2 linked regions of the Homo sapiens genome follow. The protein of the gene in region 2 purifies or fractionates together with the protein of the main gene of each other region. This does not show direct contact. Each region holds a gene or a part of one and is shown on either strand. Other genes may lie near its edges.

The links.
Region 1: the proteins of GATC (region 2) and TNRC6C purify together in Homo sapiens (co-immunoprecipitation; one large-scale study listed by IntAct). This does not show direct contact.

The regions. Positions count from the first base shown.
Region 1 is NC_000017.11:78,091,090-78,094,721, reverse strand, and holds part of TNRC6C (trinucleotide repeat-containing gene 6C protein), read right to left. Parts: intron 3,283-3,632; coding exon 3,115-3,282; intron 1,790-3,114; coding exon 1,598-1,789; intron 1,103-1,597; coding exon 959-1,102; intron 1-958. UniProt on the Homo sapiens protein: Plays a role in RNA-mediated gene silencing by micro-RNAs (miRNAs). Required for miRNA-dependent translational repression of complementary mRNAs by argonaute family proteins.
Region 2 is NC_000012.12:120,456,405-120,460,036, reverse strand, and holds part of GATC (glutamyl-tRNA(Gln) amidotransferase subunit C, mitochondrial), read right to left. Parts: intron 2,962-3,632; coding exon 2,858-2,961; intron 131-2,857; coding exon 78-130; 3' UTR 1-77. UniProt on the Homo sapiens protein: Allows the formation of correctly charged Gln-tRNA(Gln) through the transamidation of misacylated Glu-tRNA(Gln) in the mitochondria. The reaction takes place in the presence of glutamine and ATP through an activated gamma-phospho-Glu-tRNA(Gln).

The DNA.
Region 1 (3,632 bases), on a different chromosome or scaffold from region 2:
ACGCCTGTAATCCCAGCACTTTGGGAGGCCAAAGCAGGCGGATCACTTGAGGTCAGGAGTTCGAGATCAGCCTGGCAAACATGGTGAAACCCCATCTCTACTAAAAATAGAAAAAATTAGCTGGGTGTGGTGGTGCACGCCTGTAGTCCCAGCTAATCGGGAGGCTGAGGCATGAGAATCACTTGAGCCTGCGAGGCGGAGGTTGCAGTGAGCCAAGATCACGCCACTATACTCCAGCCTGGGCAAGAGAGCGAGAATCTGTCTCAAAAAAAAAAAAAAAAGAAACAAAAGAAGCAAACACAAAACACATGGCTCCAATGAGTCATATTTCAAGTGGGAAATTCAATGTTTTGGGAACTATCTAGGTGGCCTTATTAGTGATAGTACCTATGGCAATCTAGCTCTTCCTTCCACAAAATAGCATGCTGTGATAAAACTTTATCAGAGATGGCACTTCTATGATAAGACATTACTTATCAATAAATCCAGCAGCATGGGCGACACCTGAGGTCAGGAGTTCGAGACCAGCCTGGCCAACATGGCAAAACCCTGTCTCTACTAAAAATACAAAAATTAGCTTGGTATGGTGGCACACATGCCTGTAATTCCAGCTACTTGGGAGGCTGAGGCAGGAGAGTCGCTTGAACCCAGAAGGTGGAGATTGCAGAGAGCTGAGATCATGCCACTGCACTCCATCCTGGGCGACAGAGTGAGACTTCATCGCAAAAAAAAAAAAAAAGTAATAATAATAAAAAATCCAGCAGAAACTCAAATTGATTTCCATTTCTCCATAAGCACTACCTGCTGTCTTTTCATGCTGCTTCAGGTGACTAGAAAAGGTGCCCGCCAACTGTGCCTTGTATCATCCCTGCCTCACAGCCCAACCTGTCACCCCTGACATCTCCAAATGGGTCTAGAGAGACCGTCCATGCAGAGGCAGGAAGAGCAGCACCCTCACCTCCACTCTTGAGGAGGTAGCGGTTGACATCCTGGATGGTGGTGTTGATGGTAGGCCCAGTGGGGACACTGCCAGGAGTGACGTCAGGGTCATTCTCAGGGTCAATATTCTGCAGTCCTTTCCATGGAACTCCCGGATGGAATTCTGTTTAAGAAACCAAAATGAGAAGCCACAGATCAGAACACCGGCACATTGATTCACGAAATTTTAAAAGATGTTTTGTCCTGTTTGTAGAAATTTTTATAATCTGCTAATTAAATTAGAGGTACACCTTATACTCTCTTTCATTAAAGCAATCAATCCTTTGGAACAAACTAGAACCAGGTATCACAGCTATCATATTAAGCTAGTTTTCACACAGGGTTGGAATAGTTTTACCGGATAGTGTGCAGTGTGCTTCCTCCCTGCCACCCCTTCCACTCCTCATGCTGAACTAAGGGTTTACAGAAAAATGCCTGATGCTAACCATACCCAAAATTGATCTGACAAATGGATTTCCAAGGAAAATGCCAAAGCTCTGGGCTTAACGCTTCCAGATCCTTAGCTCAGATTCTGGGTCCTCTCAGCCTAATCACTCTCTGCAGGCTTGGAGCACATTCTGACCTGCTGCTGTTGCACAGAAGTGTTGCATGGTCTTACCTGGGGGCCAGTTGATGCTAGAGCCATTTGAGATTTTATCACTGTCAGATTTGGCACGTGACCAGCTATGGGGAACAGCTACGGGAGGACTGGCTGGTGACTCACTGTTCTGGATTAAATCGTACCGGCCATAGGAGTCATCAATGGAGGACTTACCTGGAGGCCCAATGCTTAGACCTCCAGGGATAGCACCTATGGGGACAATAGGAAACAAAGAAGCGAGTGAATACTCTCCAGTTGAGAGACACCAGAAGATACCCTAAGCCTCCCTATGTACCTTCTGTTCTAGGTCCAATGCCTTGCCCTATTCAGTTACATGAATTGTAAGACTTGGTCTGTCTAGGATTCTGTAAGAATCAATGACTTTATTTATTTATTTATTTATTTTTTTGAGACAACTTCTCACTCTGTGGCCCAGGCTGGAGTGTAGTGATGTGATCAGGGCTCAACCTCCTGGGCTCAAGCGATCCTCCCACCTTGGCCTCCCAAGTAGCTGGAACTACAGGTGTGAGCCACCATGCCTGGCCAGTGACTGTTTCAGTTAGCTACAATTTCAGCCCTGAAAGATTGAAACCCTTGAAGAACAATTTCAGTTTGTCCAGTAAGAAGTCTTTACAAAATACATATCCATACCATGGGAAGCTGCCCTTAATAAATCTTTTTGGGGACAACTTATGAGTCTTTGTGATTAGCTATCAAATTTGCTGTTATCTCTTCCCTCCTTTTAGTCTGAAACCCTCACTACGGAAGAACACAGTGGATGTTAAAAATTCATACAGAACCAAACCAACCAGCTACAGGCAGCAGAGCCCTCCTGCTAAGAAAGGTGCCAGCAGTGTGTGATGATTTTCCGTAAGTTAACCATGAGACATAGTTTCCTTTTTCTTTTTAGAATGCTTCCTATCAAGAGAGAACTACGTAACCTACTGAATTTCCTTTGCTGTTTATTCTACCAGGAAGTTCAGAGTTAAATTTAATGCTTGAGAGTGAGATTACCTCCTATGGTTATCATTTTTGCTTCCACCTTACTCGTGTGTCCATCAGTAAAGAGTTCCCGATGGGGACACCAGTTTGGAGTAAGACAGACTGCTTGGATGGAGGGGAATAACCAACAGAAATGCACCCTAGTATTTACAGCTGCAGTTCCCATACATACTGTATATTTGATTTTCTATTTATGTTTTACCATTTTATTGAAAACATTTCAGCAGACTCAAGTTTTTGTTGATGAATATAGATACATAAAAAAAGTACACAGGCTATGACCTAGATTCTTTGCTGCTCTGGGGTTTTCAAATTATTTCTAAGTTTGTAGCTAAGATCTAATGGTTGGGTTTTAAGAAGTTTGATCAGTGACTAGCTGAGATCTTATATGCACTATAATGGAATGGGTTATTTTAAATCCAACTTTCAGTGCTCAATTCTTAGAAAAGTATAGAATGGCCATGCTATACAACAGGACGATCGATTAATAAGCCAGCAGTGATCCCACCACAGGCATCCTAGCTCAGACGTACCATGCTTGCTAGGGTTCTGCTCCAGGGGGGAAGCGGCACTGGGCAAGTTATCCATGGAGTTGGGGTGCGTCCACTGGGGGAGGCGTGACTGGGACTGGGATGGGTCCTTCACCGACAAGCCACCGGTCATGTCCATGCTGTTGACATTCATGTTTGGGTTCAGTCCAGCTAAAGAGAGAGATGCGGTTAGGATTCGCCTGCTCCTCTAAATGACTTCATTCTAAAGCTCTCCTATAGAAGCTATTTCAGTCTTCGCTTACAGCAAATTTTTTTTTTTTTTTGAGACGGAGTCTTGCTCTTGATGCCCAGGCTGGAGTGCAATGGCACAATCTTGGCTCATTGCAACCTCCGCCTCCCAGGTTCAAGCGATTCTCCTGCCTCAGCCTCCCAAGTAGCTGGGATACAGCAAAATATTTTAACTATAACTTTTAGTGCTGGTGAAAAAATACTACTTATCGTCATAACAACATGTATTTCTAGGAATATTATTCCTAAATTAAGGTGAAAATGTGAATAGT
Region 2 (3,632 bases):
TTAGTATTCACAGTAAAAAAATACTGTCATTATGCTTCCACATGTTCACAGAGTACCCCCTTTCCAGAATGAGCTACTCAGCTGTGTGGGAATGGCTCTTGTTCATCCAGCTTTGGCAAAGAGATATTACCTGTTTGAAAATAACAAAAGAGAATTTTTGTTTGTTTGTTTGTTTTTGTTTTGAGACAGAGTCTCGCTGTTGCCCAGGCTGGAGTGCAGTGGCGCAATCTCAGCTCACTGCAGGCTCCGCCCCCTGGGGTTCACGCCATTCTCCTGCCTCGGCCTCCAGAGTAGCTGGGACTACAGGCGCCCGCCACCTCTCCCGGCTAATTTTTTGTATTTTTAATAGAGACGGGGTTTCACCGTGTTAGCCAGGATGGTCTCGATCTCCTGACCTCGTGATCCGCCCTCCTCGGCCTCCCAAAGTGCTAGGATTACAGGCATGAGCCACCGCGCCCGGCCACAACAGAGAATGTTATAGCTGAGCCTGCCGCCCAGCTGGCTCTACTGAGCTAACTGATCACTACTTTCTCATGGAAAATATGGAAGTAATGTAGCTACTGTCCTGTTTTCCTAACTGGGAGTATCTGAAAGAATCAGTTCTAAGTGTAGCCAAATTCACCTTTTTCAGTAAGGAGTATACAGGTTGATTAGCCACTAATATGCAGATAGGACTAGAAGGAAACACTGACCATGAACTCAGGTGGTCCCAAAAAGCAAAGTCTGAAGTAAGGTTCTGTGTGGGAGATAGCATGTCTGATCAAAAGATATTTCTGCTGGAGCCACAACTATCAGGCTCTGAGATGGAGAGTCTCCTTTCTCTCCACAGTTAACAGGTGGTTTAGTGGATTGGAGGCATGATTAAGAGTTTAGCTCACGGCCGGGTGCGGTGGCTCACACCTGTAATCCCAGCACTCTGGGAGGCCGAAGCGGACGATCACGAGGTCAGGAGAGAGAGACCATCCTGGCTAACACGGTGAAACCCCGTCTCTACTAAAAATACAAAAAATTAGCCAGGCGTTGTGGTGGGCGCCTGTAGTCCTAGCTACTTGGGAGGCTAAGGCAGGAGAATGGCATGAACGTGGAAGGTGGAGCTTGCAGTGAGCCGAGATCGCGCCACTGCACTCCAGCTTGGGCAACAGAGCAAGACTCCGTCTCAAAACAAACAAAAAGTTTAGCTCACAAAATTTCTAGCTTTCTTTCCCATCCTTGCATCAACCAGAGCCTGCCTTTAACTGGCACCTTAAGCTGACCAGGGCCAATGTCTTCTGTGGAGTCTGCTCAGAATGATTCTCCCTCAGGATATCCTGAACTGGAAGTTGGCACTTAGCAGGCTACCTGATTGCTTTTGGCTAGTCCCACTCCCAGATGCCCAGAGGGGTAGTACAACAGCTCCAAGTATTCACCTACCTGCAGAGGAGATAAAAACAGTCAACCTATCCAAGGTTCTGGATTTTACTGTCAGCCCAGAGTAATTTTAAAGCTTCTATTTAAAATATTTACAGTAGGTAGATGATGCAAATCTCTATACCAGCTGTTGTAAACTGATGGCTCACAGACTGCACCTGGCTTGCAGATGTGTTTTATTTGGCTTGGATGGTATTTTGTTTTTTAAATTTTGAATTGGTTGCTAGCACTTAAAATTTAAGAAATATCGGCGGGGTGCAGTGGCTCACCCCTGTAATCCCAGCACTTTGGGAGGCTGAGGCGGGTAGATCACCAGTTCAAGACTAGCCTGGCCAAGATGGTGAAATCCTGCCTCTACTAAAAATACAAAAATATTAGCCAGGCATGGTGGCAGGCACCTGTAATCCCAGCTACTCGGCAGGCTGAGGCAGAGAATTGCTTGAACCCGGGAGGCAGAGGTTGCAGTGAGTCAAGATTGCACTCCAGCCTGGGTGACCGAGCGAGACTCCATCTCAAAAAAAAAAAAAAAAATTTAAGAAATATCACACAAAATGTCAGGTATCCAGGTTCTCTGGAGAAATGGGTTTACATTCCTGCCTGGCAACACTGATAGGGTAGCAGCCATGCTCCTCCTGCTTTGAATGGGCACAGACTGAGGGCAGACCCTAATGGCGTTTGAATCATGTCATAGGCAAAGATGTGACAGAAACATCTGGGCTAAGGCCACACATGATAACTAAGTTGTCACAATAAGATTCGTTTTGGGAGGCCGAGGTGGGTGGATCACCTGAGGTCGGGAGATCGAGACCATCCTGGCTAACACAGTGAAACCCTGTCTCTACTAAAAATACAAAAAATTAGCCAGGCGTGCTGGTGCATGCCTGTAATCCCAGCTACTGGGGAGCCTGAGCAGGAGAATCGCTTGAACCCGGGAGGTGGAGGTTGCGGTGAGCCGAGATTGCACCATTGCACTCCAGCCTGGGCAACAAGAGCGAAACTCCGTCTCAAAAAAAAAAAAAAAAAAAAAGGATTCTTTTAGGAAAGGACTGGTTTTTTTGTGGTACCCAGCCCAAAGCTAGACCTAACAAATATTTATTCATGGTATGAATACTAGAAAGTTGGAGTCGATTACAGGATCTGGCAGGGTCTTAACTGTGGCTTTGAGAAACACTGAATGCCAGCTGCCCCTTTAGGGAGATCTTGAGCTCCAGATTTCCACCTACTTTAAACCTCCCGCATGCCCCCAATCCTGTTTTGCTTGTTCCTGTTACTAACTGCCCCCTAGAGGTGAGTATGACCCTGGACCCTACTGCCACCTTAATGCCACCATCTGTATGCACTTCATCCTTTTCAAAGTGCCTTCACATAGCATCTTTGGTCCTCATGCTTCCTGCTTCATTCCTAAGGTTACTGTGAGACTATCTGTTAAACCATTCTGGGCAGCACGTACCTGGGGGGGCCACAAAGTACTCCTCCACGACGCGATGGGAGTTTTGTAGTAATTCATCAGCACAGTTGCCTTCTACCACATTGTCGGATCTCAGGTATAGACATCTACAAAACCCAGAAGCTCAAGGTTACCCTCTCAGAGAAGGGGGCTTTTAGGGGATGATGGAGAGGGGCAAGAAGGAGAGAACAAGGAAGCAGTATATTCTTGAGTTAATGGGCACTGTTCAAAGATAGAGAAGCTGGGATCAACAGTAGACCAAATAACAGCCTACAGTTTATAGATTGACCGAACAACCCTGAGAAGTAAGTGCTAATTACTTCTCTGGATTGATTTAACAAATAGTTTTTGATGATTATATGGGCAACTGTCTTTTGGTGGGGACAGGTAAAAGCAATTACAAAAACAATATTTTAAATCTAACAGAGGTTAGTACAGCCTGCCAAAGGATAGAAAGGGTACCTAGTCCAGCCTGCGTGAGTAGCACATCCTCAGAATAGCTGATGTCACTGTTCAAGGATGGGCAAGAAATAGCTGGATTGGGGGATGAAGGTATGAGAAATGGACTTCCTGGCACGTATAGCAGCATGAATCCCAAAGCAATAGAGCCGAGAGCTCAGAGATTCAGAGAAGGACAGGGAGTTTAGCAGGCTGGGGTGTGGTCTGCCGGGGTGGAAGATGAAGCTGGAAAGCTAAGCAGAGATGGGGAAGCAAACTTGCCACAAGAGTAACTTAAGGATGTTGGCTGCTAAGTAACAACTGGGATCTCAGCCCAATC